5 separate regions of the Homo sapiens genome follow, and all the other regions are linked to region 4. Evidence: fine-mapped expression QTL. A gene starts in region 4. Each other region holds a variant in brackets. All regions are shown on one strand. Distances are between the middles of the regions. Region 1 has its middle 16 kb from the start of SETMAR. Region 2 has its middle 150 kb from the start of LRRN1. Region 3 overlaps CNTN4 (contactin 4). Region 4 holds the start of LRRN1 (leucine rich repeat neuronal 1). Region 5 overlaps LRRN1 (leucine rich repeat neuronal 1).

What was found. PIP is the estimated chance that this variant, and not a neighbour inherited with it, causes the effect. A credible set is the group of variants that fine-mapping cannot tell apart.
Region 1: its variant is the best candidate, but not a certain one, in a credible set for the expression of LRRN1 in testis (GTEx, PIP 0.61).
Region 2: its variant is the best candidate, but not a certain one, in a credible set for the expression of LRRN1 in transverse colon (GTEx, PIP 0.68).
Region 3: its variant is the best candidate, but not a certain one, in a credible set for the expression of LRRN1 in whole blood (INTERVAL, PIP 0.70).
Region 5: its variant is the best candidate, but not a certain one, in a credible set for the expression of LRRN1 in whole blood (TOPMed, PIP 0.75).

Annotation. Positions count from the first base shown.
Region 1 is chr3:4,284,100-4,290,219 of GRCh38, reverse strand. It overlaps a transcript of SUMF1 not described here. Among named protein-coding and RNA genes, the nearest start is that of SETMAR, 16 kb to the left of the region's middle. The variant C/T (reference allele first, on the strand shown) is at 3,081.
Region 2 is chr3:3,642,152-3,648,271 of GRCh38, reverse strand. No RefSeq gene overlaps it. Among named protein-coding and RNA genes, the nearest start is that of LRRN1, 150 kb to the left of the region's middle. The variant C/T (reference allele first, on the strand shown) is at 3,453.
Region 3 is chr3:2,907,631-2,913,750 of GRCh38, reverse strand. All of the region lies in intron 12 of CNTN4 (contactin 4), which reads right to left. Among named protein-coding and RNA genes, the nearest start is that of CNTN4-AS1, 150 kb to the left of the region's middle. The variant T/C (reference allele first, on the strand shown) is at 3,221.
Region 4 is chr3:3,797,058-3,803,177 of GRCh38, reverse strand. It overlaps LRRN1 (leucine rich repeat neuronal 1), which reads right to left and starts at 3,747. Exons shown (of 2, transcript NM_020873.7): 1 at 3,259-3,747. It overlaps LOC100130207 (a long non-coding RNA gene), which reads left to right and starts at 2,303. Exons shown (of 6, transcript NR_149025.1): 1 at 2,303-2,477. RefSeq lists silencers at 599-893, 3,427-3,536, 3,677-3,766, 3,777-3,846.
Region 5 is chr3:3,834,332-3,840,451 of GRCh38, reverse strand. All of the region lies in intron 1 of LRRN1 (leucine rich repeat neuronal 1), which reads right to left. Among named protein-coding and RNA genes, the nearest start is that of LRRN1, 38 kb to the right of the region's middle. The variant G/C (reference allele first, on the strand shown) is at 3,376.

The DNA.
Region 1 (6,120 bases), 490 kb before region 4:
CTGAGTGAATATGTTTGACAAAAGATGGAAAATACTGTCTAAAGATGCTAAACTTGGGAATGTGTTTTATTTGTCTGAGAGTTAAAAATTGGGTATGTCTTTTAAGTTTCATTGTGATTAAAAAACCAACCCAGCATAATTTAAATTCATTCACCAGATTGAATGGCTACAGTGTGCCACTCATTATGCCATGTGTGATTTGCCTATTATGCCTTATACCTGGATCTCATATCTAGATCTGCCAATAGTTGCAAAAATGCAACTTAATCAATTATGGAAGACGTTTTGAAATGTTTTGTTGTTTTTGTTGATAACACAATTTATTTGATGCTAGAGTCATTCATAATAAAGAAAGGTTTATTTTTAGCATTTGTTCATGTAGTTATTCAGCGTGTTTATTAAGTACCAACTGTGTGTTGGCCATTGTGCTAGGTGCTATTTTAAATGGTCGTTTAGTTTACAGAGTGCTCTAGCTAGAAACCCTACAACCAGATGCTTTACCCCTTCTGGATGATAGCAACAAAGAAAATGGGTTTAAATTAAGAGAAGGTAGATCCAGTTGACAAAAGGAAAAGAGTACTGTAATGGGTGATGGAGGGTGAGTATGGAGGGGGTTCCTTGTAGGAAATCTATAAGAACAGAATTGATATAATTAAGATATATACTTGCTTGAAGGCAAGGGCTTAAGCTCTGACTCATAGAGCTTCCTATCTTATTTTAGGTCTCTAATTGCTAGTGTAGTAATGTAAGAACACCCTTCAACAGACAGTCTATGTGTGACCGATTTACACCACACTGGCCCAGTGCGGTTCCTTGCTCTTTGGAGCCTCTTTCCTCACCCATAAAATGAGGTTGATAATGCCAGTCTCATAGGATTGTCCTGGAGATTTAACTGAGCAGGAAATACAGGATTTATTTTGGAGTCAGCTTTGTAAGTGCTAAGAGAAGGAGGAGATCCTTGGATTCTTGCTCCTCCCCAAGTGGGACTATCTTGGCCTCCAGCTGCTCTTTCACCTCCAGTCTGAGTTTCTCAGGCTTCCTTTCTGTCACTATCTTCCCCATTTTCCCGAAACCTCGTAGTTGCTTTCAGTGTTGTTCAGTTCTGGTTTGGCTGGGATAGGGTTTAAAATAGCCCTCACTCTGAATGTGATGGCATTACTGCCCACCAGGAGCAAATTATGCTATGTACTGTAGCAGAAAAGGTTGTGTGATAATGAATAAAGAGATGGAGTTGGTAGAAAGAACAACACCACTGTGGGCTTGAGGTCCTTCTTGATTTTCATGGATAAAACAGTAAATAATAAGGAAGTTTAAGAGAACGTTGTGAAGTTCCGAAACCATCTTCCTTTGGGGGCAGAAATTAAATTGTATTTAGAAACAATGGAGGGCTTTGTAGGTTCAATTTTTTTTTTTTTCTAGACAGAGTCTCGCTCTGTTGTTCAGGCTGGAGTGCAAATGACACGATCTTGGCTCACTGCAACCTCCACCTCCCAGGTTTCAAGCAATTCTCCTGCCTCAGCCTCCACTCTGAGTAGCTGGGATTACAGGTGCATGCCACCATGCCCAGCTAATTTTTGTATTTTTGGTAGAGATGGGGTTTCACCATGTTGGTCAGGCTGGTCTCAAACTCCTGACTTTGTGATCTGCCAGCCTTGTAGCTTCTAATTTTTGAGTGGGGTGATTGTATGGCAATACTAAGCTAGGTTAGCGGGTATTCAATTTTTCATACCACTGTAGAGTTAGGAAAGGGAGCTCAACGGGAAGAGCTGTTTCAGGGACAGAGACCCATGATAGTAATTCTTTCAGAATGCTTTTACATCTATCCAAAAGCTTTGGAATATTAATTTTTTTAAAGTAGAAAGACACAGAAAATAATAATTTCTGGTTCTTAATCTTTGCCTAAAGCTGATGACATTTTTGTGCTGTGCCAACAGGGAGATTCTGTCCATGCATAGTTTTTTCCCTTGTCAGTACGTTTGCTTACTGCTCAGATGTATTAACAGAAATTAGGAAACTGGTATCTATGTACCAGTGATGAAGCAATTAAGAACTTCATTTGTATTATTGTATATTCCTCACCTTCCCTAGGTGTTGTCTGGTGAGGTAGTTCTAAATGGTCATAGACCTAGATTGCAGATAGCAGGTGCCTGAACTCTCTGGGGTCATTATTTTGCCTTTGCATGGGATCATCTTTAAATTTTTCATACCACTGTAGAGTTAGGAAAGGGAGCTAAAAAGATGAGCAGAAGAGAAGTATGGATGTCAGAGCAGTAGCATTAATTATCCAAATCTGTGAATTATCAGAAAGCTTACAAAATATTCTATTTCCCTATATTGGAAGATTTACTAATTTACTTTAAGCTTTGCTTGGTTGATAATAATAGAATTTTCTAAGCACAAACAACTAGCTAATGCAGAACTAACAAGATGACAAGGAAAAGCACTATATTCTTTGAATCTGTTGTTCCTAAACTGCACTGAGGCACCTTGGGACTCCAAAGGGAATACTGTAGTATATTTTAAATATTCAAGGGAAACAGTGATATTCAATGTCTGTGCAAATTACTAGCTCTAGGTAGGTCATGGTTTCAACATTAGATTGTGCCACGTTCCTTTTGGTGAGGTCCTATCTTTGTGAAGCTGTGTTTTTGGTAATTGCTGTAATACTAAGCAAATACCAGTGAAAATCAATGTGGAATGAGAAATGAGAGTGACAGCATCCAATCTGATTCCAAAGTTAGAAGGTTGTGCGGTGACCAACAAGCACACACATCCCATTAGTAAGGAAATGTGTGAAAGATTTTTTTTTTTTACAATTTATGTTCATTATTCTTCTAAATGGCTATTTGGAAAATAAATGTTTATTAAGTTTTTTGAATCTTTACTGTGAACAACTGATGTTTTACTGCCTCAATTTCTGAAAGGTTATTTTCTTATTTTGTTAAGTTGCTGGTTCTGAACTTTTTGGTCTCAGGTTCCCTTTATATTCTTAACAATAGTTGAGGACCCCCTGAAAGCTTTGCATTGTGTTGTTCTGTCTACCAGTATTTAACATATTAGGAATTAAAACTGAAAACATA[C/T]AAGAACTCAGGAACATATAGCACACATTCCATTAGCTGTGAGAAACATGATGTCATGTAGCCTCTGGAAAACACATACACTTGTGAGAGAATGACAGTTACAAGGCAAATGACACTTAAGTATTATTATGAAAATAATTTTGACATTGCAGACCACCTGTAATGATCTCGGGTATCCCAGGCATCCCTGGACCACACTTTGAGAACATTGCAATAGATGGTTTTACAATAACCTAAAACATAAATCCAGGCTGCAGTGATACACCCATTGCATTGTTCTGCAAGTTCTGTGTAAATATTTCATGTCTAAAATGCTTCATAATTTTTATCTATAGTACATAGTTTTACAAGTGTACGTTAGGTGTTCTGTGCTACGATGGTGTTATGATGGATCTTAATGTTTTACATTTGCCTTATTGACACTGATAAAACATCTTTGAACTTATTATTTTATAAGCTTTAACTTGCGAAACTTATTTGTAATATTCTTTTATATTTTCCTCATTAATGATTGCATTTTCTCTTGGAATCATGGGCTTTAACAGAACATGACTGCTGGTGTGATGAAAATGAAATTTAAACAATAAAACCTTCAGCACCATTTTACTCATCATTTTGTTCAGAAAATAAACCAATCATATTCTTTCTTCAAATAAGTTGTTTTTCATTCCAGAGCTAAAATTAGTTTTACTGTGCGCTGATTGTTGCACAGCATAAAAAGACTTTCTAGACTTTTACTGCTTTTGTGCTGTATTAGAAGATGTTCCCAGCCTTGCTTCTTTGTTAATACGGTTTTTGCTTTGTTTTCCTATAGATGCAGAAAACTCATGTTTATAACATGCAAAAGGAACAATAAGAAACTTGCCCTAACTTTATAGTATTTTTATTCTGATAATTTGTTTTTAATATTTTATTATAAATTTTTCCATTTATAAATGTTAAAAAGCTACATACTTATTACTTACACAAGAATTGTAGTGCACTGACAATAAAAACCAGAGAAAAAACTAAACAATTTGAAAATAGAGGTAACTATATAATTTAAGCATATAACAAATGAGTGATACTCTTAAGGAGTCTTGTAAAGAATGTGCAATACATTCTTACTGCATACTTTGCTCTGGGCCAAACAGGTGGATATTTCTGCAAGTATTTCTAATTTCTTGCTTGGTGGGGGACCTAGTTAGGATTTATTTGACAACATGCTCCGACTATTAGCTTGAATTAATGAATTTAAATTATAATTTATACTTTTAGTTAACTTTTTTTGCTTATTGCATTGCTATTATAGTGTTTATCCATTAGTATGGAAGTATTTCAACATTTTGGCAGTTGTGTGCATTTGGATGAATATATCAACTTTAACCTTTGTTATTGAAAGTATCATTCATCCCTCATACAGTACTGATCACTTAGCAAATATGAGGCATTATGAGGTACTGTATGAGGTGACAAATATGTGTAAGGCCCAAAATGCATCCTCAGAGAGCTTGTAATCTATTACATACCTATACAAGGAAATAGAATATATGGAAGAAAGTACTAAGTACTAGAGAAGAATTGTTAATATTACATACAAGTTGTATTCATGTAGAGAGATTAATCTTGTTTGGGAAATTTCATTGTCAAAGTTTAGGAATAACCATATACATTTTTTCCTTATAAGAATCATACATTCTCATTGTGAAAATTCATAAACTCTAGAGAGTCACAAAAAAAGAAAAATCACCTGTAGCTTTTTATGACCATTACCATCATTAATATTTTGGTATTTAGCTTTAGCCACTTTATTATTTTGAGTAGACTCTTCAGAAAAGTGCTTTGTAAAGATACTCATTCTAAGCATAGTCCTAGGAGTAATGCAAGTATTATATACAGCCCTTGCTATTAGTAATTTCGAAAGAGGAGATACTATTAAGTCAAACTACTTTAAGCATAAGTTATTTTATGGAGAATAGTGATTTGGCTATAGTTATGCCTATTATAATTATAATTGTACCCAAGAATTATGAAAGAGATAATGCAGCTGCCTTATTCGGTGGCTTAGAGACAGGAGAACAGCACTCATGGAATTCTAGGAATGTGATAGTTTCTACTGAGAAACAGAAGAAAGCCTCATCTTACTTGTGAGACGAAGATGATCAGCGGTTATTAGAGACTTTATTATAAATGGGGGTGAAAGCTTAGCAAATCTTCCATAAAGTAAGTTCATATCAAAGTTAACAGCTAAATCTTTGTATTGGAAGTAACATTTGATTACTAAGATATTCAGTTTACAGGAAAAATAATGTATTAAATAATCCCTTTATCTTAGCTTTTCTCATTTACAAGCACCACAGATAATCCCAAATAACAAATTACCCCCCATGCTTCTTTATATTTTGGGTTGGAATCTATGGTACTATTTTTTTTTTCAGGAGTTTTTTTGCCTTTCCTGATTTGAAGTAATTGTTGACGCTAGTGTGACTGCCTAGGAAGAGCCAGCTTAAAGACATTTTTGGTGGCAAGAAAATATCACACTGGAGTAAAATATATATCAAAGATAGTTTTTAAAGTGGATCAATCACATGTGGGAAATGCAGACTTGATGCCAGGGTCACCTGTAGCAGAATGGAAAAGCAAGGCAAGCCCCTTCTTTTGTACTTTCTCTCCTCCTCCTCCTCCTTCTCCTCCTCCTCCTCCTCCTCCTCCTCCTCCTTTCATTTTTTATTTACTTATTTTTTTTTTGGGACAGAGTCTCATTTTGTCATCCAGGCTGGAGTGCAGTTGCTTGATCACAGCTCACTGCAGCCTCAACCTCCCAGGGCTCAGGAAATCCTCCCACCTCAGCCCCCCGGGTAGCTGGCACTACTGGCACGTGCCACCATGCATGACTAATTTTTTTTTTTGTAGAAATGGGATTTTGCCATGTTGCCTAGGCTGGTCTTGTATTCCTGGGCTCAAGCTATCTGCCTGCCTCAGCTCCCAAAGTGCTAGCGTTCTAAGCATAAGCCTCTGCTCCTGGCCTCCCACCTTCTTTGTTAGCACTTCGCGTTCTTAG
Region 2 (6,120 bases), 150 kb after region 4:
AGATACTATGGTTTGCCTTTAGCTCACAGATTGCTTGCTATCAGCAAAGTGAAGACTTTGGGAGGAGCTGAAAACATAATTTTTGTTTGGGGATGCTCCTCTGAATTCAGCAGAATACCTGACTTGAAACAAATATTTGGATTATCTGTGGGGTTGCTTTATCTAGAAATCCACATATTTGTGCTTCAGACTAGTGGTATATATGAAAAAAAATAATTCAGCTAGAGAATTTATGAGGAACACCCTTCCGTCCTTCTCTTCCCCACACACAGATATTCAGGAACGTTTTTTTCTTCTTCCAGTGAATATGTGAACGTTTTGCTAAGTAGAACTTGTTAATTGCCACCACATGGCCAGACCTCTTCTTAGGGAAGAATATCATTGTTATGAACTGAATTGTGTCCCCCTAAAATTCATAGGCAGAACTCAATGTGACTGTATTTGGAGATAGGGCCTTGAAGGAGGTAATTAGGGTTAAAGGATATTATAAGAGTGGGTTACTAATCTAATAAAACTAGTGTCCTTAGAAGAAGAGGAAGATGCCAGGATGCCTGTGCACAGGGGGAAGGCTGGGTGGGGACCCAGCAGAAAGGAGAACATCTGCAAGCCAGGATGAGAAGCCTCACCAGAAGCCAACGCTGCCAGTGCCTTGAGCTTCGATTTCCAGTGTTCAAACCTGGAGAAAATACGTTTCTGTTATTTAACCCGCCTCGTCTGTAGTATTCTGCTATGGTAGCCTCAGTGGATTAATACACTAAAAGTAAATAAATAACACATGGCTTCTGTGGTTAGCGGATTTACTGCAGTCAGTTGAGGAGAAAAAACAAATGTGGATAAAATGGAGAGAATATACTGTTATGTTGAGCAAAGCTGACAGTAATATAATAAATATAATATAATACAGACAGTAATATAATAACAAGAGCTTATTTTAATGATTAACTTACCATGTGTTAGTTTCATGTGAAGGGTTGAATTGTGTGTCCCCAAAAAGATATGTGGAAATCCTAACCCCTAGTAACTTTGTATGTGACTTTATTTGGAGATACAGTCATATAGAAATAATCACATTAAAATGAGATCATCAGAATGGACTCCAATCTTGTATGACTGATGTCGTACAAGGGGGAAATTTGGACACAGAAACAGACATGTGCAGAGAAAAGATGTCATGATGTCATGAGGACACACAGGGAGAAGATACCATGTGACTGGAAGAGGCATCTACAAACCAAGGAGTGCCAAGGACTGCCAGCAAACACCAGAAGATGTTTGGTTAGTGTTGTAGCAGGCAAGCTGCAGACAAAACCCCTCAGACACCGAGTTAAAGAAGGAAGGGCTTTATTCGGCCGGGAGCTTTGGCAAGACTCACGTCTCCAACAACCGAGCTCCCGAGTGAGCAATTCCTGTCCCTTTTAAGGGCTTAGAACTCTAAGGGAGTCCGCGTGAGAGGGTCGTGATCGATTGAGCAAACAGTGGGTACGTGACTGGGGGCTGCATGCACCAGTAATCAGAATGGAACAGAACAGGACAGGGATTTTCACAATGCTTTTCCATATAATGTCTGGAATCTATAGGTAACATAACCGGTTAGGTCAGGGGTCAATGTTTAACCAGGCCCAGGGCGCGGCGCTGGGCTGTCTGCCTGTGGATTTCACTTCTGCCTTTTAGTTTTTACTTCTTCTTTCTTTGGAGGCAGAAATTGGGCATAAGACAATACGAGGGGTGGTCTCCTCCCTTAGTGTAATCGCAATTTTTGCCATTACTTTCAATGGCAAAAACCACAATTACTTTTGCACCAACCTAATAGCAGCTACAAGGAAGGATTCTTTCCTAGAGTCTTCAGAGAGAGAGAGAGACAGAGAGAAAGAGCTCGGCCCCCCTGACATGTGATTTCAGATTTCCACCCTCCAGAACTGCGAGATAACACATTTCTGTAGTTTCAGCCACCTAGTTTTTGGTGCTTTGTTTCAGCAGTGCAGGGAAATGAATACAGCCTTGTTCTCAGAGCTGGACAGGGCAGCTTCCTTAGTCACTAATTCACCACAGATTTTAAGCTATCACTGGAATGATTTAGAAATTATAGTGCCAGTTCACTCAGGTTTCCTCACATGGGGTGAGCTGTCCTCACTGAAGTACTGAAGTGTCTCTAATGGAAAGAAAATAATATGAATAATATAAAACATCACTTGTCATTGACGAACTAATGCTGTATTTTTGTGATGCACACACAAGTTGTATAGTGACTACCTATAAAGTAGCTACTATTATTATCTTATTTTATAGCTCAGGAAATGAGAGTCAGAGAAATTCAATGATTTGCCTGACTTACCCTTGGTCTCACACCCAGTAAATCCTGCAGCTGGCATTCAAACTCAGGTTTCCTCTAGCTAGGTAGTGAAAGGTAGGATTTGGATAAATAGTGTAGGAAGTACTTCTGAGCTGTGAGACTAAACAGAATTATTTCCACTAGAGATATTTCCAGGCATAGCTAAAAGAGAGAGTCAAAAGTGTGCTTGGAGAACGAGGAGCCCAACATAACAGGACTGGCATGGATAAGACTTCAAGGTGGCCCGTTAGTTTCATGGAAGGTCAACGTTTCCCCATCCTTAGGAATTCCTGCTTCCAAGAATTGATTAGTGATAAGCAGACAATAGAACTTGACCCAAATCCATTTCACATGCGTTTCCCACTGAAACTGCCTTTCCAAAAATTATGACAGTGAAAGAAATCTGACCTAACTGACTCCATCTTTCTTTTAACCTTTAAACTACCCTTGTTCATTCCTGTGTGTTAGCCAAAGTAACTTTGGAAGGAATTTAGTTTGTAGTTTAACTTTGAAACAAAGAGTATAACAGCCCCTCCCCAAAACAAACTACCTCCTTACTTGGGGAGCAGACCACCTTTGTAAAACTGACAAATTAGCCACAGAATTAGAAAGTGTGGTCAGGAATCATGCAGCCAGAGACCATAAGATTCCTAACCTCACCAATTGCTCCTGCAGATAACATTGCTGTTGTAAAACCTAAGATCAGTGTCCAAGACAGTTTTCAGACCTTGCATTATGACAGACCAGCCGCTGCCACCCAGACTGGCAATCTGGCTCAACTAGTTCTGCAATCCCACCCAGGAACAGAAGAGAGCAAGAAGAACCTGCTCCAACCCCCTATGATTTCATCCCTGACCTAATTAATTGGCGTTTCCCATTTCCTAGCTCCCCACCTGCCAAACTCTCTGAAAACTCCTAGCCTCCACATTTTCAGGAAGGCTGAGCTGAGTAATAATAAAACTCTAGTCTCCCCTTTAGCCGGCTCTGTGGGTATTAAACTCTTTCTCCACTGCAGTTCCTCTGTCTTGATAAATCAGCTCAATTTGGGAGGTGGACAAGAGGAACCCACCCAGTGGCTACACCAGCATGAAATTCTGTGTCATCTTCTTGCCTCCTCTCTATA[C/T]TCCTTATCTCTCAAGTTTCTCTGTGGCATGGGGGATAATGGAGAACATTGACCATATCAATCACATGGAAAATCCATGTGTCCCTTCTGAGATTTACATAGCAACACCTAAGCAAATAGGGAGTTTTCTCCAGAACTATTCAGTATTTTATAAACAAGTAGCAGTAACATCCATCATCTTTAAAATCTCCATTCATTAAGCACTGTGCTGTAGCAAAACAAAACAAAATGAAACGAACAAAAGAAACCCCAGAATACAATATAACATGGCAAGACAAAACAATAACAACTAACTTAATGCAGATATACTTAGAGCAAGACCATCCTGCTTTACAGAAATTCTGAGTTGTGGAGTATTTAACAAGAAATATAGCTTTATAGCAAAAGTCTCCAGCTAAATATGGGGCAGTCGAGTGTAGCCAAATGCAAGCCTAAGATTTCTTTACTAGGCAAGAGCAATTTGTCATTACCAAAGCAAGAGAAGAGGGGTAGCATTGAGTAGAAAAAGTGGTCATTTGTGATGGGATCATCTGGTGTGGGTTTCGCTGCTGTGTGGCTTTGGGGTCTCTTTGTCTCCCAGGGCCTGTGTTTTCATCTATAAAATGAGGAAATTTCACTAAAAATCATAAATTCCTCTTAAGCTCTATGTCCTGCCTTATAGAAATCAGTGCTTCTCAAGTGCCTAAAACTTCTTCAAAGTGGGCTTTTTATGATTTGAACCTCTTTAAGATGGGGAAGTATCTTCTCCAAGCATTACCTTTCGGCTTGGAAAACCCTATCTTGGTCCAATTTAAATTATGATAAATGCAAATCAATGACATCTAAATTAGAAAGGTCTTATGATAGTTGATCATACAAGAAGGCTTCGGTCATTATATTAATATGACTTTTCTCTAATCAGGTATTTCTCATGTCATATTGATAATTTATTCCTTGGCAAATGACTATATGTCTTACATTGTGAACCTGGTTATTTATGGTTGTATCGATATACAAGCCTAGGTCAACTGCTCGTATTATCATCCCAAACATAGAATATCTATGGAAGTCACTGCTACAGTCTTCTGGATTTCACATATTATCTACATGGAGTTCCTTTGGTACATATGTTAATTAGACATAAGACAGCTAATGACACCAATCATACTATTTGGAGAAAAGAGTAATGTTTCTTATCTCCTAATTCATCTACTCATCTGGTAGGGAACTTCTGTCCCTTCTCTTTCTATTCTTCCTATTCTTAAAAGTATTTATAATATTCAGCTTTCCTATAAAAGGATTCCCTATTCAATAAATGGTGCTGGGATAACTGGCTAGCCATATGCAGAGAATTGAAACTGGACCCCTTACTTATACCATATACAAAAATTAACTCAAGATGGATTAAAAACTTAAATGTAAAACCTAAAACTATAAAATCTCTGGAAGACAACCTAGGCAATACCATTCAGGACATAGGCATGGGCAAAGATTTCACGACAAAGGCGCCAAGAGCTATCCACCCATCAGTGTGGAAAATGCACAGAAGACAATTCTAATACCCTTCTATTCTCCTTCAGGGCTACCTTTCTGTTCTTCATAATGCTTTAGTCTGAATTCATTAAATCTATAATTTTTTAAAGACATTCATTCTCATTTCTGATATTAGCTAGCATTAATAATTAATACATGGGGCCTATCAGATACTCTACATAATTGCTTATTCTATCAGCCTTTGAGCTAAATTAGAAAAAAAAAGATGTTTCAAGTGAGAAGTGGTAAGTTAAAGGAAGCTAACTGAGGGACAAGTTAGAATGGTTTATAAAAGAACTATACTAAAGCTGAAATGAAAAAAAACTAAGTTTGAGGATTTTACTCCACTATTTACTATCTGGATGACTGAAGATAATTAATTTCTCTCAGTCTATTTCCTCATCTATAAAATATAACTAAATAATAAATACACAAAGATAAATAAATAATAACAATATGCTCATCCTCAAATTCTTAGTGCCCAGCACACAGTAAGTGTTCAAATAATGCCTGCTGAATGTCTGATCTTCACCATTTTATTGGTAAATAGAAAATAAGTATGGGGCAAGCATTTAGTGTTGTCAGCATCAATGAAAATAATAAATACAAAAACACCTCATGAACCATAAAGCACTGTACAAATGCAAGGGCTTTTAAAAACCCAAAGGAACATGATGGCTTTCCCACATAGAAGATATAAAATCCTAACCCACTCTCTCTTTTCCCTTCTGTTACAATACAATGGCAGCAACAGCAATTTCAGCATTGGGTTGTGAAACAAGTTACAGGAGCTAGGCTTCATGCCCCAAAGCACAAACAGGTGGAGATATAGGAGCATCTTCCTGACTCGGCAAAGGAAAGTTTTAAGAGCAATAAGCGAGAAGACAAAGCTTTTCAGAATTGCGCTGTGTTTCAGAGCTTCCCTCTGCCATCTCTGGGCCCTGGGAAAGGCAGTGTCAGGAAAGCACAGGGGAAACATATGGTGGGAGAACAGCATGCTGACAGCTGAAGCACAGTTTTATAATAACACATAAAAGTAACAGCTATGCTAGTTAAAACAGGATTACTTTAAAATATATGCATAGATACACACACACACACACAGACGTGTCTTGAAAACTGGGATACAGAGGCTGTCTGAAGAGGCAGCCAGAAT
Region 3 (6,120 bases), 890 kb after region 4:
ACTGTTCTATCCATGATTGAAAATAGAGTATCAAAGTATCCTACTATTGTGCTGCTATTTCTCTCTTCAGTTCTGTCAATGTTTGCTTCATACACTTGGAAGTTCTAATATTAGGTGCATACAGATTTCTAACAGTTACATCTTTGTGATGAATCAGTCCTTTTATCATTATATAATGTTTTTCTTTGTCTCTTGTGACAGTTTTTGTCTTAAAGTTTATTTTGTCTGATATTAATACGGTCACCCTTGCTCTCTTTAGGTTCTGGTTTGCACGGATTATTTTCCTCTATTCTTTCATTTTCAGCTTGCGTGTAACCCTAGATCTAAAGTGTGTCTCTTACAGAGAGCATATAGTTAGATCCTGTTTGTTTTTAATCCATTCAGTCAAGCTATATCTTTTAATTGGGGCATTTAATCAATTTATGTTTAAAATAATTAGAGATAGGGAAGGGCTTACAATTGCCATTTTGTTCATTTGTTTTATGTATCTTGTAGCTTTTGTGTTTACCCTTTCTCCTCTTTCTGTCTTCAAAAGAGGAGATTTTTATTCCTCGATTTTTATTTGTTTTAATTTTTATTTATTTAATTTGTTTATTTTTGAGACAGAGTCTCACTCTGTCATCCAGGCTGGAGTGCAGTGGTGTGATCTTGGCTCACTGCAGCCTCCGCCTCTCGGGTTTAAGTGAGTCTCCTGCCTCAGCCTGCTGAGTAGCTGGGATTACAGGCATGCGCCACCACATCCAGCTAAACTTTGTATTTTTAGTAGACATGGGGTTTCACCATGTTGGCCAGGCTGGTCTCAAACTCCTGGCCTCAAGTGATGTGCCTGTCTCAGCCTCCCAAAGTGCTGGGATTACGGGCGTGAGCCACTGCACCCAGCCTTGTGTTTCCTTTATTTTTAAAAATGATATGTTTTCATTCACTGCTCATTTCTCTTCTTGTATATTATATAGATATTATCTTTGTGGTTACCACTGTAATTATATAGCACATCTTAAAGTTATAATAATCTATTCAAGCTGGCAACAATTTAACTTCAATCATGTATAAAAACTATTTACATCCTGCTGCCCCACTTTGTTACTGATGACACAAATTACCTCCTTTTATACTGTACAGTTATTAACATAGATTTATAGTTACCTTTTATACTTTTTAAAACATTCTATACCAGATTTTTATAAAAGTGATTTTTGTACCTACAATATTACAGGATTTTATATTTGTCTGTATGTTTACCTTTATCTAGGAGTTTTAAATTTTCATATAGTTTTGTGTTGTTTATCATCCTTTCATTTCAACTTGAAGGACTCCCTTCAGCATTTCTTGCAGGGTAAACCTAGTGGTGATAAACTCATTCAGCTTTTGTTTATCTGGGAAAGTCTCCACTTCTCCCTCATTTTGGAAGGACAGTTTTACCGGATATAGTATTCTTGATTGGCAGCTCCTTCTTTCAGCACTTTGAGTAGATCATCTCTCTCCCTTCTAGCATGCAGTTCCTGCTGAAAAATCTGTTGATAATCTTACAGATGCACACTTGTTTGTGATGGGTTGCTTTTCTCTTGCTGCTTTCAGGATTTTCTTTTGGTCTCTGACTTTTGACACTTTGATTATAATGTGTCTCAGTGTAGATCTCTTTGGATTCATCCTAGCTGCAGTTCTTGAGCTTCTAAAATTTGTGAATCCATTTCCTTGCTCAGACTCAGGAAGTTTTCAGCCATTTTTTCTTCAGATAGGCTCTCTGCCATTTTCTCTCTTTATTGTCTGCAAATTACATAACACTTATATTGTTGCACTTGATGATGTCCCATAGACCCTTCAGCTTTCTTCACTTTTCTTATTTTTTCCGTTTTGCTCCTCTGCCTCAATAATTTCTAATGTTCTGTCTTTGAATTGCTGATTATTTTTTTCTGTCTGGTCAAGCCTGTTGTTGAATCTCTCTAGTAAATTGAGTACTATATTCTGAATTCACTTACTATATTCTTCACCTCCAGAATTTCTTTGGGCTCATTTTCATCTTTTATCTCGTTGATACTCTCATTTTGTTCATGCATCATTTACCTGATTTCCTTTAGTTATCTATCTGTACTGTCTCTTAATTCCTTGAGCGTCTTTATGAGAATAATTAGAATTCTTTGGTAATTGATATACCTCTGTTTCTTTAGGGTTGATTTCTGTAGATATAATTTGTTCCTTTGGTTGGGCCATGTCTTCTGGTTTCTTTGTGTGCTTTATTATCTTCTGCTGGAATTCTGGCATTTAAAAAATCAGACACTTCTCCTAGTCTTTGCAGTCTGAGAGCAATCAGTCCAGCTAGAGATTCCGCAAATCTCTCAAGCCTTTTCTGATGATGCATCTTCTCTGGGCTTTTGTATGTAATCCCCTAATTGAAGATTTGTTGGTTTCTACTCAGGAGCTTCCCTTGGTGTCTTTATCAGGTACTGTGGACTTTCTAGTGCTGCAGGAAGCATTAAATTTCCCTCTGTTGGTACTGGACCTCCCCTAGTGTCTGTGGTACAGCCTGATACCAGACCAAGCCATGTTGATAAGACTTTGTTCTCAGGGGGCCTCCCACATAGCCCAGTTTCTGTCATCACTTAGATTCAGGCAAAACGGAAACCACTCCCTTAGGTAGTACTTCCCCCTCAAAAGTAAAAACACTGGATATACCTTCCACTCTTTTCTTTCCCTCCCCAGCAAGAAATTAGGAATTGGAAGTTTTCTACTGATAGCTCTGTGCTACGCTGTGGGGAGTGGGAGGTGCTCCAGCAAGCGAGTGCCATAAATTTTTCTACAGTGCTTTAATGCTATTGGCTTTACACTTGACTGGAGTGCAGAAATCTCTTAACTGGTTTTATTTCTTTCAATGGCAACTGGTCCATTGGGGAAAAAGGGTCTGGGGCTTCCCTTTTGACTATCTTGATGAATCACCCCCCACTACCAAATCTTGAATGTCAGTCTAATTAATACTCCTTAGATTAGGCTCCCCAAATGCAATCAATTTTGCCAGAAGGTGGTGGAGGGGGAAAAATAGTTACTTCATTTATTTATTCATTCACAAATTCAAAGAACTTGGGGTAGATAATGGTAAAAGACATAAAGTAGTAAATACATTTACAATATGACTCAATTCAAACAGGGGAAGGGTAGAAAACAATCTCACTAGAATTAATACAATAGAGTTAAATTAATCCCAGACTGGGCAAAGAGAAAAATAACA[T/C]ATTTCTTACTGACTGATGAAAAACTTTGCCTCTTTACTAGAAGATGCAAACTTTTCTTCTTTTAAGAGAGAAGTTCTACATTTTATGAGAAATTTATTGGAAATATTTTTATGAAAAGGACTAAGGACTTCAAGATGGATCATCTCTTCACAGCAGTTTTACAGAAGATTCAGATATTTTGGTTATAGGATTGTATATAAAGTATTAATGCTCAGTGATGCCTTAGGCTGCATTCTAGAGTAATATTTTAAACTCTGACTCACTGCATTTCTTTGGGGGAATTGATGTAAGGGATGATCATAATATTTATCATAATATTTATCAGCTTTCAATGTCTCCCCTCAGTTGGCTTTAACTACCAGAGTCATGCCATGCAGCACTTTAGCTCAAGCCTCACATGGTAGTCTGTCAAGACATTCTGTGTGCTTTATTCCTATTCACTCTCTTGTTGAAATGGGGCCTTCAGCCATGGTTGGAATCTCTGATGCCTGCTCTTTCTCTCATACAGGGGTACTTCGGATTCAGAGTGCTTTTTGATCCAAAATCAGATGTTTTGGTAGGGAGACTATGTTCAATTTTTAAAAACAACAACAAAAGCCCTCTGTGTAGGACAGATTTCCTATTTTAGGATAGTGGTTCTCAAACGGTGGTCTTGGATAAGCAGCATCAGCATCAACATCACTTGTTAGAAATATAAATTCCCAGGCCCCACTCTAGAGCTACTATATCAGAAATTCTCAGGGTAGAGTTCAGCAATCTGTGTATTAACATGTCCTCTAGATTACTGTGATGCACGATAAAGCCTGATAATCAATATTTTAGGAAAATTCAATGGCTTTTTAAACCTGATCAATTAAAGCAATAGTTCTCAAATTCTGTTGTTCTTCGGAATCACACCTGGGGAGCTTTAAGGAAAAATGCCTGGGTCCTAGGATCAGAGACTGAATTAGTTGATAACGAGTATGGTATGCCATCAGGATAGTAAAGAGTTCCCCAGATGATTGTAATCTGCAGCAAAAATTGAGAAGCACAGAACTGGGATTTACTGGTGATTTCATGGCTATCTCTAAGTGTTTGGTATGGATACTAAGAGAAAAAAAAAAAAGCCCAAACCTTCTTATATTGTTATAAACACCTTTAGGTTTGCAAAGGCTTTCACGTGTAATTCTGTCAGTTTTCACAGTAAGATGAGTAATGACATCCTCCTACTACTGGTACGTATATGATCAATAACTTGATAAAGACACCAAATTTGCTTTTGAGAGCCAAGTGCACAGCTCCCCTCTTCATGACAACTTAAGTAAAGCTCTTGCCTGGATGACTGCAGTTGGGTAAGAAAGGCATGTGTCCTCTCATTCGATGCTGATCACACTCAGCACATCTGATTATTTTGTAACCTGGCTCAACGAGGCAGTTGAGAAATCAGATGCAGATGAGCACTTGTGAAAGTCCCTATGAAATAACTTTTAGTTTAGCCTTAATGTTTTTCTAATTTGGGAGCCAATCACCTGGGTAGATGCCAAATTAACCAGATAATCGCTCAAGGTTGCACCTCACTTTAATTGGGCCATCAGTTACTTGATGGTATTTGAGTGTCCTGCCAGGGTCAGATGTGTTCCACCACACAGGCCAGGAGAACCCCCGGGATACTGAACCATTAGACATAATTTCCTCAGGATAGAAGCTACTTCTCCTCCATTATACAGTCCTGGAAAAGTCAAGTCATATTCAAAAGACCACTGGGCAGATACCCACTCACCCTTAGGGATGGCTCCTCCCACTGTAAAATCAAAAAACTTTTTTCACAATATTCTCACATATATAAGCAAAATCAAAGATTTTTGACCCCCACCACTTCTGGAACCCCACTTAAGAGGTAGCTTAGGAAGTGATTAACATGGAGATTTTTTAAAAAGCTAGCCTCATTATCTCAAGGTGGAAATGGGTCTGAGGTACAGTTTATGTTCCAGAAATCTCCCTTCTGGATTAGACTTAGGCTAGACTTTACCTAAGACCCCATCCTTGTTTGGTTCCTCCTTCTTCCTTATTCTGCTTTTCCTTACAGGTTTTTCCTGGAGAACACTCTTTCAGTGAATTGCAGATACCTGAATACTTGCCTCAGACTTGCTTTGGAGACCTTAGCTATCCTCTATATTTACCCAATGATTTCAAGTTTGGCAATTTAATCAGCAGTCCCCATCGCCAATATGATCATCTGAGTGGACACAAATACTAAACATGGGTAGAACTATTACTTTAGAAAAGTTATTTTTTCACCAACAAAATACCTAACTTAGTTATCTTTACTTTTTAAGTTACGTATAGAAGATTCAGTTTCCCCATGATTACAAGACTCTATTTACTCTAATTGTAATACACCTTCATGAGTGGGGGAGAGGAGTGGAATGATGGTTATCACCCAGGGAGTTGTACAGCACCTCAGGGATGTCCACAGGGATATATCCCACAAGTGAATCTCATCCATGACTCAGGCTAAGACAGCAGAAAAGATCTAGGAGGAGTTGCCTTGGGAAAAAAATAAACTGCCAATTGTCATAGTTCAGTCACAGACAAGGACACTTCCATTTGATGTACTCATAACCAGGCCTACCAATATACTGACCTCAAGATAAAAGTCTCTCTATGGCGTTTGCCCATCCAGTGAGTAAATCACCCAGCACACAGATTAATTATTTAGCAGTTTAAATCCATTAAATAGACATGTTACATACACATTAAATACCAAGACAGAACACATAAAATAAAACCAAGGGAAAAACCTATTAAATATATGCTTCCTAACCATCTCTTATTCATGACCGTAGGGCTATCACCCAACATTAAAAGGAATCTCCTCTATAGCATTGGAGGTTCCTGATATTTAATCAATAGGTGGAAC
Region 4 (6,120 bases):
TTAGATCAAGAAGGTGGCCTTAGCACAGACTAACCAGAGAGAGATCAATGGTTGAGTTTTTCCTTGCTTTCCCAGAATTTCAGACATTAACCAGAGCTAGCTGAGGTTATGTTTTAGAAACACAGTCTGCAGTTGGATCTGGTCTTGAGATCTTTTATTTAGCAGAATGATCCTTTTCTAATAATTAAACACTTTATCAGTTTTATTTACCAAGGAATGAGTTCTAATCTGTCCTTTCATTAGACTTGCAGAATAACGATTACACAGGCAGGTTAATTGCCAAAGATAAGGTTTCACAAATGTGAGGGTCATTTTTAACTTACCAGGTTTCAAAAATATCTAGATAACTTTACAACAAAATGGTTTATAGTCTAGAAATGTCAAGTTTATTTTAAGTTACCCTTCAACTCTATCAGGAAGACATCAGGCGTGTAGAGTCAAATTAAGAGTTTATTAGAATGATTTGTTACTTTCTGACTTCTATATAGCTCTAAGACACAAAATGCAAACTTGGCTATAACATTTTCTTACTTAAATTTGATTCAATTCATTTTTCCCCATCCTGTGAAAATATTGCCTTATGTATAAAAGGCACTGAACCTGCAAAAATAACTTAAAGGAACATGTAAAATAGCAGACTAACATCTGTTGTCCACCCCTCCCCCGAAACACTGAGCCCTCCAAAACAATGTTGTCTTTTTTTTCTGGCGGGGGTTGGGGGGGTGTTGTATTTTAATGTCCCTTTCAGTGAATATATAGAATACTGGGGCAAATGCTGTTCCGTGAATAGGTTCTTTTTCCCTTCAACAGTGTTTGAGGTTGACAAAAGAAGAGGCCACTGGGGCTGGTTAGTCGTAGGTATTAATATAATCGCCTGCCTCACGTGCGGCCCACACTGCCTGCCTTTTGTTCAGCTGTCGCACAACGCCAAGAGGTGAACAGTGCAGTGTGGTCACGCAGCTAATGTTAGACACGGCAGAAAGGCCCTTGCTCCAGAGTCTACTGCACGACTACCTCCCCGTTCACTGTTATGTGACCTGAAAACCACTCGGGTAACTAGGGTTGGGACAGTTGCATCACCTGCAGTTCTACAGTTTGGTGCCTTAAGAACCGAAATGACTTTGGCTAGACAGTGGACATTCTCAGCTAGACAGTGGACATTCTCAGGAAATCTTCATGTCGGTCAACGACAACGATCTTCTACTATAATGAATAGCTCTGAAGATGAGGACCAAATTTGAGCAAGAGTCAAATTATTAAAAGAAAACTCGAAAAGTTGAGGGGTCAATTCAGAAATCACTTCAAGCCGCCAGAAGTGGGTTAAAGTTACTGTCTGCTTCACACAAACCTTTTCCTAACTAGCTTAGAATATCCAGCTTGAATATTGCACGAATATATACAGCCAGGTAAAGAGCAAGCAGCACTTTGAGCTTTCAATACAATAGCACTTAAAGAATTTGGCTCCTGAATAAAGGTGTCAGCAAACCATGGAATTCCCAAACAGAAAAACTCACACTGCGTCTTTATTCTCTTTTCTTAAGGTCTATTGTTAACTGAAGACTCCTTGTCTTTTCAAATTCCTTCATGTGAATGGATGAGGCCAGACATCTGCCAGGATCCGCTCACATTTGCATGCAAATCAGAGACTTCGGGACACATATGGCCCTGGAGCCAATAACACTTTTACTCTAGATTTATACTGATCAAAGTGCCTTCCTGAACTTTCCACTCCTCCAGCCCTAGCTTTTAAAAATGAAATAATGAGCCTATTCCACTAACATGATTTAGATTGTCATGGCAAGACAAAACAAAACATGTTGTCTTTTAGAAAATCCTCCACGCAAAAGCCAGAGTCGGCAGCACCTGTTCCCTCACCCAATTAGAATTCCACTTTTCCTTTACGATTTAGGTTTGGGAATGAAAATACTTACGGCGGGATGGGATTTAGACTCTTAGCCTTTGCCTGTGAGCTTCAAGTGCTTCAGAACCATTTGTACCCCGGCCAGTCGTTCACTCACGGCCAGGCTCTGTTCTTGGCGCTGGGGCCGCGGCGGTGGACACGGCAAGCGAGGTCCCCTTCTCCTGGATCCGGCATCCGGGCCGAAGCGCCTGGTCCGCGTTTCCGCGCGGGCTCCCCTGGAACCGTCCCGGGACACGCGGCCCTCTCGCTGCTGGACTTTTCCCCGAGCCCCAGCTTGCCAGGCAGGGACTCCCTGGGCGGGCGGCGGGGAAGCGCCGAGTCGGCGGCCGCCCACACCCCTCTCCACGCAGCACAAAGGACACTCGCCGGCAAACTTTCCTCGCTTCTGACCCGGGCCGAGCCGGGAACTCAGCGCCAGCTCTGTTCCTGGCGGGGCTGAGGCTTCCCTCACATTCCAGGCCACCTGGCAAACGTCCTGAGGCTGCCACTCCTTCTGGGCTCAAGGCTCACGGGCTGAGGTCTGTCCCCGCGTGGAGCTCAAGGCTCACGGGCTGAGGTCTGTCCCCGCGTGGAGCTCAAGGCTCACGGGCTGAGGTCTGTCCCCGCGTGGAGCTCAAGGCTCACGGGCTGAGGTCTGTCCCCGCGTGGAGCTCAAGGCTCACGGGCTGAGGTCTGTCCCCGCGTGGAGCTCAAGGCTCACGGGCTGAGGTCTGTCCCCGCGTGGACCGCCGAGAGTTCGGTAGATCCTTCCCAAGGCTCTGACTTCAATACTTTCAGTGCCTTGTCAATTATACCCCTTGCCCCTTTCTCTTACCAAGGCCACCGCCAAGACACCCTTTTTCTTTCCTCTCCCCGTCGCCCGCCACCTTCCTTGCCCTCCTCTTGGCCCTCTTTCCAGCTCCCTGGGCCCCCTTTCCGCGCTGCTCTCCAGCCCCAGCTGCCTTCCCCGGTTCACATCCCGGCAGCCCTCCTCCCTCCCCGTCCCCGGGCACCTCCCTCCCCTGGTCGGCCCCTGAAATCCAGCAGGCTCGGCTCCGGTCACTGCCTTTTTTTGCCTGTTTCTATCTGGCCTGCCTTCCCAACTATCGCTCTCCCACACCTTTTTTTTTTTTTTTTTGGCAAGGGGGACGGGGGGAAACGGGGCACTATATTCTCGTTTCCCGACTTCGTCATTTTCCCCAGCTCCGTGAGCCGCGCCCCCTCGTCCCCCTCAGGCCCGCGATCTTACCCTGAGGTTCCCCAGACCCCGTAGGGTCTCCCACGCCACCAAGTTTGCCTCGACTTCCCCTCGCTGCCTCCCACACCTCCTGCCGCGGCGCGGCCGGCCAGGGACTTACCCCGAGGCCCAGCTGGTGGGGGTGTTGGGGTGCGCGCGGACCCGGCACCCACGGCGGCGGCGGCGGCAGCAGCAGCAGGAGGAGGAGAAAGACGAGGAGGAGGAGGAGGACTAGCTGAGCGGCGCCTCCTTCCCAGCCCGCAGCGCGCACTGGCTCCTTGGGGCACCCCCGGGAGAGCACCAAGACCGGAGACTAGGCGGCGACACAGGCAACCGCTGCTGCACGGGGCTGGGCTCAGTCGGCTCTCAGAGGCCAGGGCAGGGGGAGGCAGGACTGGGAAGGAGGGTCGGAGAAGTGGGGTGCAGAGGGCGGGGCAGCGAGCGGCCAGGTCCGGAGGAAGGCGCCCCAGGCGCCTAGGGATGCCGCCGCCCGGGCTGACGCCGTCGGCCCCTCTCCCCGCCAGGCGGGCGCTTGCAGCCGCGGGCGCACGGGCCTCGCCTCGTTCACCGGCTCGTTGCCGGCGCCCGCGGTGCGCCCCGCTTTGTGCTCCCCGCAGCCGGCGTGCACCTGGTGTAAGCAAAGGCGGTCAGCTGATGGGCCGCGCGCGGATTGGCTGCTCCGCCGTCTCCTCCCCTCCCGCCCGACCCTCTTCGCGGCCTCCCGCCCCCGCCCTCGGCGCGGCCCCGTGCTGGGCACCATCTGTGGACCGCCCAACAAAGGCGCAGCGCGGCGGGGCTCGGGTGGCCGGGCCGCGGTCGCCGCTTTTTGTCTAGGGGACGGCAGGCTGCGGCTGGGCAGGGAGGCGAAGCGCACTGCCGGTTTTTAGCAAAAGACAGACCAAAAGAAAATACACGTCCGTGCTAGGAGGCCAGCTAGGCACAATGGGGCCCCATCTCTTTGCGGCGTAGAACTCGGGCTCGGGGGCTGAGAACCAGACACAGTTCGGCCTGGGGCTGTGGGAGCCAAGTTTCGGGGTGAAATCCGACCCTGCGTCTTAAAATACAGGGCGCGTCCTCGGGCTGTGTGTGCGCGCCCGGGGGCGTCCTCCGCAGACCTGGCCCGGGCCGGTGTCCCTGCCGCGGGAAGGAGGATTCGGACGCTTAACTCAGCGGCGAAGTCGCTTCCCATTGGAGGAGGCTTTCCGAAAACGTTTCTGAAACTTTGAAATTACAGCTTTCTGATTTGTGAGGGGTGGAAGTTGTGTTTAAACAGGCGGCGAGGGACTGAGAAGGCAGTGTTAAGTGGAGGTGTCTCCGAGGAAGGGGAGGAGGGTGGGGACGGAATAGGTCTTCGGAAACTGCGCGTGAACCTGCGTCTCAGCTTCAAAGTCGCCAGCCGGAAGCAGGGCTTCAGAAAAGCCTTGGCACCCTTTATTGGGGGAATCGGCTTTAAGCGAAAGCATCATTAGCCCCTCAGTACTGAACAACTTCTGGCAGAGGAACGTGGTGACATTTCATTATGATGTCTAAACTTAGAACTTCTGGAGAATTTGGAAGGATACATTATTCGAGAATCATCCTTTGGATTCTTCAAAGCCACAGGATACATTCAATGTCAGTAACCATATTCTTGATCCCTGTAACATTTATTGGCGTTTCGCTTAGGTCTCTGATAAATGTTTGACGTCTTTGTGTGTCTTCACACTTTGTTATCCTGAAACTGTGTCATGTAGACATAAATGGTCACAGTTTGTCTTAAAAGTCTTTAGGAAAAGGTGATACTAGCACTTGGGCTAGAAGGTCGTGCAGAGCAGAGGAAGAAAAAGGCCCACTGCTGTCTACAAATGAATGGGAAGATTTAAGATCTTTCAAAGCAAGTTGAGTCTAGACCCTTGCCCAAGTTTTGTAACATGATTTTGTCTCTTTCCCCCCTTTTCATGCAGATTATCCATGGAGTTAGCATGCAGATAGCATGGAGTTTGTCTGATAGAAGTTGGGCTCTGGTGGAAGTACGGAAATTGAATGGTCAGGGAAAGATAGAATGCAGGTTTCTTAGGGAGTCTCTATTAGGTTTCCAGCCTGCCTTCCTGGGAGTGGAAGAGAGATGAGGTTGTGCCCTTCAAGGAGGAGCTTTACAGAGGTAGGTCTTGGAGGAGCAGTCGGAGCAATTAATGATGGTGAGAGTTGCTCTTGGGAGGCCAGATCTAGAACAGCCTCCAGGTTTTGGAAGAGACTTCATGAGAATGGTGTGAGTCAGGGACCAAGGTGTGAATTTTGAAACCAGGCCAACACTGCTTAGGTCCCAGCCCTGCAATTTATGAGCTGTGTCCCTAATGGCAAGTCACTTTATCTCTTTAAGGCTTAATTTCCTTGGCTCTAAAGTAGGGTTAATATCAGTACTTATCCCAAAGGATTGTGATGGTTAAGTGGGAGTAAACATGTAAAATGCTTAGGACAGTGCTTAGTATATAGTAAGCATTCAACGACAGATGTAAGCTCTAGGCATTATTAGGCAGGTATTGAAGACTAAAACAAGACATCAATTCAGACAGGTGGGATAATGATTCCGCATGTGACAGAATATCTCAAAGGCACTAGCTGCTCCAGTGGAGGAAATGGACTCTGTCTCTCCACTGTTCGATTCATTTCTTTTCAAATTAGCATATCATTTATTTAAACTAATTTCCCTCTTCCCCAAGGCAAGAGTGAGAAAGGCAGCTTTTCCCATTTCTACTTGACCACTGCATGCATTTGGTTCCAGACAGAGAGAAGAGCATTATCATTAGGAAGAAATGTGTGTCAGGGATGGGGGAAGGAATTTGGGTGAGAGGATGGGGCTTGCTGTGGACAGAAGAGGAAAAATGAGCATGACAATTATGAAAGAGTCTGAAATGTGGTGTAATTATTAGAAATTTGCTGAATTGCCTGAATTGGTAATTGGTCCAAATTTTAGAAATTACCCTTTTTTAACTCTGCAAAGGGG
Region 5 (6,120 bases), 37 kb before region 4:
AGCTACTCGCCAATAGTGTTTAAATGTAAATCCATTATCACAACAAGAAAACTACAGACCAATATCCCTAATGCATACTGATGCAAAACTTCTCATATTAAAAAGATTATATACCATGAACAAGTTGGATTTATACCAGGAATGCAAGGAAGGTTCCATATGTGAAAAACTATCAGTATAATATGCCACATTAACAGAATGAAGAAGTAAAAACACATGATCATCTCAATTGATGCACAAAACCATCTGACAAAATTCAACACTTTTTCATGATAAAAACACTCAACAAATGAAGAATGGAAGGAAAGTACCTACACATAATAAAAGTCACATATGAAAAGTCCACAGTTAAAATGATTCTTAATAGCAAAAAACTGAAAGTTTCTCCTCTAAGAATGGGAACAAGGAAAGGATGCCTATTCTTGCCATTTCTATTCAACACAGTACTAGAAACTCTAGTCACAGCAATTAGACAAGAAAAATAAATAAAAGGCATTCAAATGGAAAAGAAGTAAAATTATCTGTTCCCAGATTACATAATCTCATATATACAGAAAATCCTAAAGATCCCACAAAAAACCCACTAAAACTAATAAATGATGTTAGCAAATTTGCAGGATACAAAATCAACACACAAATGAGTTATATTTCCATAAACTAACAATGACTAATCTGAAAAGGAAATTAAGGAAACAACCCCATTTACAAAAGTATCAGAAAGAATACAATGCTTAGGAATGAATCGAACTGAGGAGGCAAAAGACTTGTACAATGAAAATTGTTAAGAGATAACCAAAATAAATCAAAGATGATATAAACACAATGATGAAACATCCCATGTTTATAGACTGGAAAATTTAATATTGTCATACTGTCTATAACACCCAAAACAATCTACAGAATCAATGCCATCTCTATCAAAATCTCAATGGTAATTTCTACAGGAAAAAAATCTAAAATTCATATAAGATCAAGAGATTTTAAATTGCCAAAGTAATCCTGAAAAAGAACAATGTTGGAGACTTCACACTTCTTGATTTCAATACATACTGTAAGGCAACAGTAATCAAGATGGTGTGGTACTGACATAAAGGCAGACATACAGACCAATGGAACAGAGTCCAGAAATAAAGCCTTCTATACATGCTCTTTATGATCTTTGACAAGGGTGCCAAGACTATACAATAAAGGACAGTTTCTTCAACAAATTGTGTGAGGAAAACTGGATATCTACATGAAAAGAATGAGGTTGTACTCTTACCTTATGCCATATACAAAAATTAACTCAAAATGCATTAAAGACCTAACCATAAGACCTAAACCTATAAAACTCCTAGAAGAAAACATAAGGAAAAAGCTTCAGGGTATTTGGCAATGGTTTCTTAGATATGACACCAAAAACACAGGCAACGACAACAACAACAGAAGACAAATGAGATGATTTCAAACTTAAGGTCTGTGCATCAAAGGAGATAATCAACAGCAAAAAAAGATGACCTACAGAATGGGAGACAATATTTTTAAATTATATATATGATAAAGGGTTAATATCCAGAATATATTATAAACTCCTACAACAAAATAACCTTATTAAAAAATGGGTGAAGGGCTTAAATAGACAATTCTCCAAAGACATACAAATGACCCACAAGCATATGAAAAAATGCTCCATATCACTAATCATAAGAGAAATGCAAATAAAAAGCACAATGAAATATCACCTCATACTCATTAGGATGGACACTATCACAACAGAAAATAACAGGCATTGGAAAGGATGTAGAGAAATTGTAACCCTTGTTCACTGTTGTAGAGAATGTAAAATGGTGCAACCATTATGGAAAACAATATAGTGATTTCTCAAAAAATTGAAAATATAATCACCATACGATTATGTCCCAGTTCAGGGTACATATCCAAAAGAATTAAAGCGGAATCTTAAAGAGATATTTGTACACCCACGTTCATTGCACCTATTATTATTCACAATAGCCAAGAGGGAGAGGCAGCCCAAATGTCCATTGACAAATGAATGGATAAGGAAAATGTGGTTTAATTAGATCCCATTTGTCAATTTTTGCTTTTGCTGCAATTGCTTTTGGTGATTTTGCCTGTGCTTATGTTTTGAATGGTATTGCCTTGATTTTCTTCTAGGGTTTTTATAGTTTTGTGTTTTACATTTAAGTCTTTAATCTATCTTGAGTTAGTTTTTTTATAAGGTGTAAGGAAGGGGTCCAGTTTCAATTTTCTGCATATGAGTAGTCAGTTCTCCCAGGACCATTTATTAAATAGGGAATCCTTTCCCCATTGCTTGTTTTTGTTAGGTTTGTCAAAGATCAGATGGTTGTAGATGGGTGGTCTTATTTCTGAGTTATAAAAAGAAACAAGATCATGTCCTTTGCAAGGACATGGATGAAGCTGGCAGCCATTATCCTCAGCAAACTAACGCAGGAACAGAAAACCAAACACCACATGTTCTCACTTATAAGTGGGAGCTGAAAAATGAGAACACATGGACACACAGGGAGGGGAACGACACACACAGGGCTTGTTGGGTGGTGGGGTGAGGGGAGGGAGAGCATTAGGAAAAACAGCTAATGCATGTTGGGCTTAATACATAGGTGATGGGTTGATAGGTGCAGCAAACCACCATGGCACACGTTTACCCATGTAACAAACCTGCACATCCTGCACAGGTACCCTGGAGCTTTAAAAAAAAAAATTAAAATTAATTAAAAAAAAAGAAAAAAAAATGTGGTGCGGTGGCTCAAACTAGACTGCTCTGATCCCACCAGAACCCTGCTGCTGTCCATTCACATCAGGATTACCCAGGAAAGCAAACAATTTAGCCTTCCTGGCATTATATCACCTAGTTCCTTGGACTATAGAGTGAGGGCTTATGTATCTCCTATTTAGAGAGTGTGTTTCATAATTGTAGAAAGGGTAGAAAATGGACCAACCAGCAGGCTGAGTCATTTTTTAAGAGGGTGGCAGGAATAACCCCAAATGAGCTCAACAAAACTGAGGAACCCAAGGAATGGTGCTTGAAGGGAAGGTGGGGTTGGTTGTGGTCCTTAAAGCTCTTGACACTTGGTGTGGGGTTATAAAATGGGGGGGGGAAGGAGTAATAAAGCCCTTGCCCCCAATCCAAATGCTCTCAAGGACTTAGTATGTAGTCTTATTTTCCAGTTTTGTTTGTTTACAAAGTAACCTTGCTTGATACTGCATGGAAAGTCAAGTTTTTCTTTTTGCACACTCAGGGCCACCTGCCTGGGCCGGCATCTTCCCCAGCGTCTTCACAGCACTCCTAAGGAAGACTTTTGCAGTGCTTTCCAGAGCTGAGGGGAGTGGAATTTAGTCCAGAGAAAGTGAAAG[G/C]AAAGTGAGGTTTCCTGTTTCATCTTCTCAAGGCGGATGTTCTCAGCTTCCTTCACACCTCCTTCCCATGGGTGCAGGAGACAGTACAGCTGGGTTGTGTAGGTGGGCCAAGAAAAAAGGGGCACTGGTCCAGTCCCAGGTTTGGCCCAACACAGGTACACAGCAGATACCATCCTATCTTCCCCTCTTAATAGCAGGCCAACCACATGTAACCCTTTTTTCCTTTACTGATGAACCTTCTTATGTGGTACCAGCAACAGGGGACAGACAGGCCCACCCACTGTAGTCTAGGGAGAGTTTTGCTACTACCCCTAAAATTGTACCACCCCCCATATCCCACTCCTTTTTGTAAAAACGAAAGGAGTTTAAACCTGTAAGCATGCTATTGCTTCCTATGTGTTAATCAGTTTCCTTCCATTTGAGCTGCATAGGAGGGAAGGGTATTGGAAGCACAGGCCGTGATCTTGTGCCAATCAGTAAAAACCACTACTACATACACACACACAAACACACACACACGAAAATGTGGTGTGTACATACAATGGAATACTATCCAGCTTTAAAAAGGAAGTCCTGTCATATGCTACAACACGGATGAATCTTGAGGACATTATGAAATAAGCCATTCACAATAGCGTGAATAGTACGTGATTCCATTCATATAAAGTAGCCAAAATCATAGAAACAGAAAGTAGAAAGGTGGTTGCCAAGGGCTTGGAGGTAGAGGGAATTAGTGTTTAATAGGAATAAAGTTTTAGTTTTGCAAGATGACAAAGTTCTAGAGATCTGTTACACAATAATGTGAATATACTTAACACAACTGAACTGTACACTTAAAATTGAGAGATGGTAAATTTAATGTTAAGTGTTTTTACCACAAAAAAAGCGAAGCCATAATAATTCAGGCCAACTTTTATAACATATACAAATTAATTATCTTAAATTCTGCAACAAATAAGAAATGGCTGGAATAGATTTTTTTTTTTAAGTGAAATTGCTTTCTTCTAGGGCTGACTGACTAGATCTATCAAATGTAAGAAGAAAATGTCCTGCTAATTACCAGGGTGATGTTCCACAAAGAAGTCTGGCAGTTTAAAGAAACAATCCTTTAATTAACAAAACATGGCTTTAAGGCCCAGAATTGGCACGGGATGCATTTCAAGAGTCCCACAAACAATTATACATTACATTTGATGCTTCTTTTTTTTTTTCCAACACGATATGTTTGGGACACTCTGTTCTGAGTATAAAATTCTGAAGGAAATGAACTGCATGATCATCACCATCACTGCACTTGGCGGAGACTCTCACTTTCCCCATAGCATTGTGTCAGATAGGATATTAGTTTAACAGAATGACATTATTCGGTGGGACTTAGCTCTATGATTTATATGCATTAACTTCTTATGAAGTTGGGCAAAAAGAAATATATACTCACAGTAACAAGCTAGTTATTTGTATTTCTGTTACTGCAAAAAAAAAAAAAAAAAAATCAGGCAGCTCTGGGGTTGGAGAAAGAATTCTACCCTGGAGGAATCAAGTGTTCTGTATTCGAATTATGCTTCTCCACTTACTAGATGTGTCACTTTGTGCAAGCTGTAGACCTTCCCCAACTGACGATAGTTCAACTTACAATTTTTTGACTTTACAAAGGTGTGAAAGCAGTACACACTTAGTAGAAACCATACTGTGAGTACCTATATGATAGCATCCTATTTTTCACTGTCACTGCAGTGTTCAATTACATGAGAAATTCAACACTTTATTAGCAAACAGACTTTATGGTAGATGATTTTGCCCAATAAAACTAATGTAAATGTTCTGACAATATTCAAGGTAGGCTATGATGTTTGGTAGGTTAGGTGTATTAAATGCATTTTAAACATAATGATATTTTCAACTTAAGATGGGTGTATCAGGACGTAACCCTATCATAAGCTGAGAAGCATCTGTACTTAAATTCTCTGTGCCTCAGTTTCCATAGCTAAACTTAAGGCTAAGTATATATGGTTCATACATGTAAATTATGATAACAAAAAAGTACTTATGTAAAAATATTCAGCCTAGGGCCTGGGTATGATGGTTAATACCCAGTGTCAACTTGACTGGATTGAGGGATACAAAGCATTAACCCCGGTTGTGTCTGTGAGGGTGTTGCCAAAAGAAATTAACATTTGAGTCAGTGGGCTGGGGAAGGCAGATCCACCCTTAATCTGGTGGGGACAATCTAATCAGCTTCTAGTGAATATAAAGCAGGCAGAAAAACATGAAAAGAAGAGATGGGCCTAGCCTCCCAGCCTACATCTTTCTCCTGTGCTGGATGCTTCCTGCCCTCGAACATCAGACTCCAAGTTCTTCAGTTTTAGGACTCAGACTGGTTCTCCTTGCTCCTCAGCTGGCAGATAGCCTATTGTGGGACCTTGTGATCATGCATGTTAATACTTAATAAACTCTCCTTTACATATATTATATATATAATGTATATAAAATATGATATATAATATGTATAATAATATATATATCATATATATATATATATATATATATATATCCTGTTCTGTCCCTCTAAGAGAACGCTAATACAGATTTTGGTACCAGGAGTGGTTCTAAAGGAACAGAATATTAAAGGATGGAGTTCTTTCATTGGTTTTGGGGTTTCTGGAGTTGGCTGCTTAATATGATTAGACCCAAAAATGCTAAGGACTGTACTTCTAATAGTATGGAGAACACTGATAGTCGTTGTTG